Linked DNA regions of Homo sapiens: region 1 is linked to region 2. Evidence: fine-mapped expression QTL. A gene starts in region 2. The other region holds a variant in brackets. All regions are shown on one strand. Distances are from middle to middle. Region 1 overlaps KXD1 (KxDL motif containing 1). Region 2 holds the start of REX1BD (required for excision 1-B domain containing).

Evidence for each region. PIP is the estimated chance that this variant, and not a neighbour inherited with it, causes the effect.
Region 1: its variant is fine-mapped to the expression of REX1BD in whole blood (INTERVAL, PIP 0.97).

The regions. Positions count from the first base shown.
Region 1 is chr19:18,564,863-18,567,761 of GRCh38, reverse strand. It overlaps KXD1 (KxDL motif containing 1), which reads right to left. Exons shown (of 5, transcript NM_024069.4): 3 at 2,741-2,893; 4 at 584-630. It also overlaps a transcript of UBA52 not described here. Among named protein-coding and RNA genes, the nearest start is that of UBA52, 5.5 kb to the left of the region's middle. The variant G/A (reference allele first, on the strand shown) is at 1,358.
Region 2 is chr19:18,587,109-18,590,007 of GRCh38, reverse strand. REX1BD (required for excision 1-B domain containing) reads right to left here and starts at 1,210. Exons shown (of 5, transcript NM_001100418.2): 1 at 1,108-1,210; 2 at 931-1,013; 3 at 325-595. The coding sequence starts at 1,206. RefSeq lists a silencer at 863-1,382.

The DNA.
Region 1 (2,899 bases), 22 kb after region 2:
TGTCGGCCTTTTCAACAGATGGTGTGAACCCAGGCTCAGCCTGCAGAGCCCTTTAAGGTGGTGGCAACATGGAATGGTACCCCAGAGAACACGCGAGCTCTCTAGCCAGACAGATGCGAACTCAAGTCCTGCCCCTCTGGGCCTCTGTTTCCCTCTCCATGAAACGGTGATACTCACAGTCCCCACCCCATGGGTGACTGTGGGTAACAGCTGGACATGGGACAGATCCTCGAAGCTGGGGCTCAGGGAAGGCGAGACGATGTCGGGGCTGGTGTCACATGAGCCCGTGCTCTGTTCTGAGATGGCTCATAATGCACACAGGGATAAGGATTGTCATGCTGCTTATCCACATTCTCCTGTGCGGCCTCCCCACGGGGCACGGACTCCCGTCCTAGTGCCCACTCTGCCAGCTGCTGACAGGACCAGGCCAGCACCCTGACCCTGCCCCCACCCCAGGTTTCCCCAGACCCACTGCCCATTACAGCCTGGTCTCAGTATCAGGCCCCAAGGTGGCCTTCCAGAAGCCTGCCCTGGGTGGAGAGTGCTGACGTGCTCGGGAGCAGGAACCCTGCGTGACACTTACGGCTGAAGGCCTCTGGGTGCTGCCTGGCCAGTTTCCCTTTCAGCGTCCTGCAGGGGAGAGAAGGCACACAGGGCTTAACCTGCTGAGCAGGTAGGCTGGGCCTGGTGCTGGCCACAAGCCCCTGCTGCCAGCTGAGGGCAAGGGGAGACGGGAGTGAGAACCCCCACACTGTTCATCACCTCACATCTTCACTCTCTCTAGGTGCTCGGCCCAGCAGCCACGGCCCTGACAGTCGCCCACCAGCCGGCCTCCAGCCCCAAGGTAGGCACCAACCCCCAACTAGTTAGACTCTGGGTGCTCTGAGCCTAGGCACTGGCTGGGGGCTCCCCCTGCGAGGCTGCTTCTTACATGTGGCCTCTTCTCTGATAAATTTTTTTTTTTTTTTTGAGACAGAATCTCACTCTGTCGCCCAGGGTGGAGTGCAGTGGTGCCATCCTGGCTCACTGCAACCTCCACCTTCCGGATTCACATGATTGTCCTCCCTCAGCCTCCCAAGTAGCTGGGATTACAGGCACGTGCCACCATGCTCAGCTGATTTTTTTGTATTTTTAGTAGAGACGGGATTTCATCATGTTGGCCAGGCTGGTCTCAAACTTCTGACCTCAGGTGATCTGCCTGCGTCAGCCTCCCTAACTGCTGGGATTACAGGCATGAGCCACTGTGCCCAGCCATTCCTGCCTTTTCATTATGTGTCTAGCACTATGTTACTTTTTTTTTTTTTTTGAGACGGAGTCTCGCTCTGTCGCCCAGGCTTGAGTGCAGTGGCGCGATCTC[G/A]GCTCACCTCCTGGGTTCATGCCATTCTCCTGCCTCAGCCTCCCGAGTAGCTGGCAATACAGACGCCCACCACCACGCCCAGCTAATTTTTTGTATTTTTAGTATTTTTTGTATTTTTAGTAGAGACGGGGTTTCACCATGTTAGCCGGGATGGTCTTGATCTCCTGACCTCGTGATCCGCCTGCCTCGGCCTCCCAAAGTGCTGGGATTACAGGCATGGGCCACCTCGCCCAGCCGCACTGTGTTACATTTTTTAAGAATAAATAAACTGCAAGGCTGGGCATGATGGCTCATGCCTATAATCCCAGCACTTTGGGAGGTCGAGGTGGATGGATCATCTGAGGCCAGGACTTCGAGATGAGCCTGGCCAACATGGGGAAACCCTGTCTCTACTAAAAAAATACAAAAATTACACAAAATACAAAAATTAGGCTCACACCTGTAATCCCAACACTTTAGGAGGCCGAGGCAGGCAGAGTGCTGGAGCTCAGGAGTTTGAGACTAGCCTGGGCAACACGGTGAAATCTCGTCTCTACTAAAATACAAAAAATCAGCTGGGCGTGGCAGCATGCGCCTGTAGTCCCAGCTACTCAGGAGGCTGAAGCAGGAGAATCGCTTGAACCTGGGAGGCGGAGGTTGCAGTGAGCTGACATTGCACCACTGCACTCCAGCCTGGGCGACAGAGCAAGACTCCACCTCAAAAATAAAACAACAACAACAAAAATTAGCTGGGTGTGGTACAGTATGTCTGTAGACCCAGCTACTCAGAAGGCTGAAGCACAAGAATCGCTTGAATCCAGGAGGCAGAGGTTGCAGTGAGCCAAGATCACGCCACTGCACTCCAGCCAGGGCCACAGATCAAGACTCTGTCTCGGCCGGGCGCAGTGGCTCACGCCTGTAATCCCAGCACTTTGGGAGGCCAAGGCGGCTGGATCACGAGGTCAGGAGATCGAGACCATCCTGACTACTAACACGGTGAAACCCCATCTCCACTAAAAATACAAAAAATTCTCCAGGCGTGGTGGTAGGCACCTGTAATCCCAGCTACTCCGGAGACTGAGGCAGGAGAATGGCGTGAGCCCGGGAAGCGGAGCTTGCAGTGAGCTGAGGTCGCGCCACTGCACTCCAGCCTGGGCAACAGAGCGAGACTCCGTCTCCAAAAAAAAAAAAAAAACTCTGTCTCGATCAATTAATCAATCAGTAAATAAACTTACGTCAAGATTTTATCCCAGGGTTGGAATTGTCCCAGACACTTAAGTGCGCAGTGAAGCCTTGTAAAACAAACAGAAATCTCCCTTTACCCTGGTATGTGAAGGAAACTGAGGCTCAGATGGGGAGGTGGAGGCAGAGGTCAGCTGGGCTGGGGTGGCACTGAGCACCCACCTGATACGGCGGAAGATGCTGTCCAGGTCCCGTTTCATCTCTACTAGGGTCCTCGTGTGGTGCAGGAAGCGTTCGCTCATCTGCTGCAGGCGGGCACTGGACAGGTTGTTGAAGTTGAGCAGCATCTCATTGGTCTTCTCAAAGCGGTCCAGCCTGATG
Region 2 (2,899 bases):
GGGACCCTAGACGCGGAACAACCAGAGTGGGTGGAGCATTGTTGGGGCGGGATCTGGGCATCTTGGAATAGCATTTAGGCGGAGCTGGGAGAAAGCGGGAGTGCTCTGGGAATAAGGACAAAACTTGGGAAAAAAATTGGGGATGAACAGCAGAGGGCAAGGTCCGAGAATCCCCAAGTGAAGCCTTAATAGAGGATTGGGGTGGGACAGGAAGGGGTGAGGTCTGTGTATGGGATACTGGGACCACCCCCCAACCAGGGGTGCGTCATGAGAGGAGCCGGCCAGGGTCCTAGAGACACGGCGGGGAAGGGGTGGTGGCCTCACCGTGCCCAGCCGCGTCTGCTCCAGCTCCTGCAGGCTGCGCACGTGGCCGGCGAGCAGCGGCTGCCTGCGAGGCCCGCCCAGCTCTGCTTCCACCGCCAGCACCTCCCGCGAGGCGGCGGCGAAGGCCTGGGTCACCCCGTGCACTGTGCTCCGGTAGCGCGCGAAGTCGTAGTCAGGGCCGCTGCGCAGGTACTGGCGGTGGCCTCTGCGGCATGTGGGGACCCTGAGGCCGCGCCCCCAGGCTCTCAGGCCCTGCACCGGCGCCAACCACCTGAAAGGCCCCCAGGAAGTGTCCCCAGACACCAGAGGGGAGGACTGGTAGGTAGGAAGGACGCTTCCTGACTCCCGCAGGGGAACGCGAGACAGGCCCACCCCTGCTCTTGGGGAGGAGAGAGAAGCCACGAAGAGTGAGTCGTCGGGTAGTGGGGACGTGCTGTGGGGCCTTTTTCGTGAAGGTGAGGACCCGGTGCCCCGAAATCCCCGCCCCATCTGACTCTGCAGCCACACAAGGACCCAGCTCCTCCTCCAGGCACGCCCGCCGAGAACACGCCCACGCCCGGAGCGGGCGGGGGACCGAACCCTGAGCCCCTCCGCGCCCCCACTCACTCCTCCAGTCGGCGGAAGCCCTGCGCGCGCTCAGCCTGCAGCTGGTGGATGCGCTGCACCAGCGTCCGGATCGGGGCGTCTTTCTGCGGGACAGGGGGCACGGCTGGGGCATGAAGCCCGCGCCCCTGGGTCTGCGCCGCCCGCCCCGCGCCCGTTCCCGCTTGGGCCTGGGCTCACCCAGGGCCACGCCGGCTCCTCGCGTCCCCGAGCTTCGGTGGCCTCCTCAGCAGCAGGCACTGCAGGGACCGTAGGCTCCGCCGCGGTCTCGGTGATCATGACTGCGCAGCCCTGGCCAGGCTCCGGAGCAGGCCCTTCCGCTGCGCCCGACGCCCCCTACAGGCCGGGAGGTCCACGGACCCCCTACCCTGCGGCCGGCCAGCCAGAAGGAAGAAAGGGGAACCAAGACCGCGGGCCGCCCAGTCAAGCCCACCCTTCTTGTTCCCGTCCAGGGCCCGCCTCCGATCGTGTTTTTCCTTGATTGTGCGGCTCTGAATACAGAACAGCTGTTAGCCTTGAGTTCGTTCCTATGCTTGTATCTCAACACCGACTTCCACTTGAAGCGGGTACTGAGCGTGGGTTTTGACGTTCAAGAGTGTTAAGTAAGCCTGGGCAACCTAGGGAGGCCCGATCTCTACAGAAAAACCAATTAGCCCGACATGGTGGCTCCCGCCTCCAGTCCCAGCTACTCGGGAGGCTGAGGTGGGAGGATTACATGAGCCCGGGAGTTGGGGGCTGCCATGAGCTATGACCATGCCACTGCACTCCAGCCGGAGCCACAGTGAGTCTGCCTCAAAAAAAGTGCAGTGGCTGGAACTCCACCAACATTAACAGAGATTCACTGGCTCTTCAGAGAATCACAGGGGTGAAGACAAGATTCAGTGACAGGGACGGTGTCAACAGCCCACCGAGTTGAATTGGGTGTCTTGTGTAATAGCCCTGAGCCTGGAGCATAGCAGGGGCCAGAACGACCTCAAAGTACAGAGGAGGCCTTGGAGCTTCCTGCTGGAGGGATACATGGGCTAGACAGAGCTTTGGAAAGCTTCCTCCTCCAGGGGCCCAGCCGGAGGAGCAGGAAGATGCTGGTAGCCTGACTTAGTGAAGAGGGACCAGCTCAGGTATGGGGTGACAGACACCAGCCTTTAAGGGGGAAGGGACTAGGCTGTTAGTGAGTTGGGAGTTTTTCTTGCCGATGGGTTCGTGGTCTCGCTAACTTTGAAGAATGAAGCTGTGGACCTTCGCGGTGTGTGTTACAGATCAAAAAGAGTCCACGGACCAGGAGAGTGAGCAGCAGGGCAGTTTATTGAACAAAGCGAAAGGAAAGCTTCCACATGCTGGAAGGGGACCCGGAAGGGTTGCCGTTGCTGGCTCCGGTGGCTAGGGCTCATATCCCTATGTTACCCCTCCCCTTTCTTTTTGTCCATTGAGAGTGGTTCTTTTTTCAATCCTCCTCTGGAGTGTTTTTTTTTTTTGTTTTTTTTTTTTTTTTTTTTTAGTGAGACAGAGTCTCGCTCTGTCGCCCAGGCTGCAGTGCAATGGCACGATCTCGGCTCACTTCAAGCTCTGCCTCCCGGGTTCACGCCATTCTCCTGCCTCAGCCTCCCCAGTAGCTGGGACCACAGGCGCCCGCCACCACACCCGGCCAATTTTTTGTATTTTTAGTAGAGGCAGGGTTTCACCGGGTTAGCCAGGATGGTCTCAATCTCCTGACCTCGTGATCCGCCCGCCTCGGCCTCCCAAAGTGCTGGGATTACAGGCGTGAGCCACCGCGCCCGGCCTGGAGTGGTTAATTCTGAATCCTTCACTCGATTGGTTAAGAACTCAAAACACTGAGTCACAGGGGTCTTCTGTGAAAGTCCCCAAACCTGCCCAGTAAATCCTGCCAACTCCACCCCTCAGTCCCCTCTCTCAACAGGAGAGCCCAACTGCTGTTGGGGTGTGGGAGGATGACCACTCTAATTGCTTCCTGCTG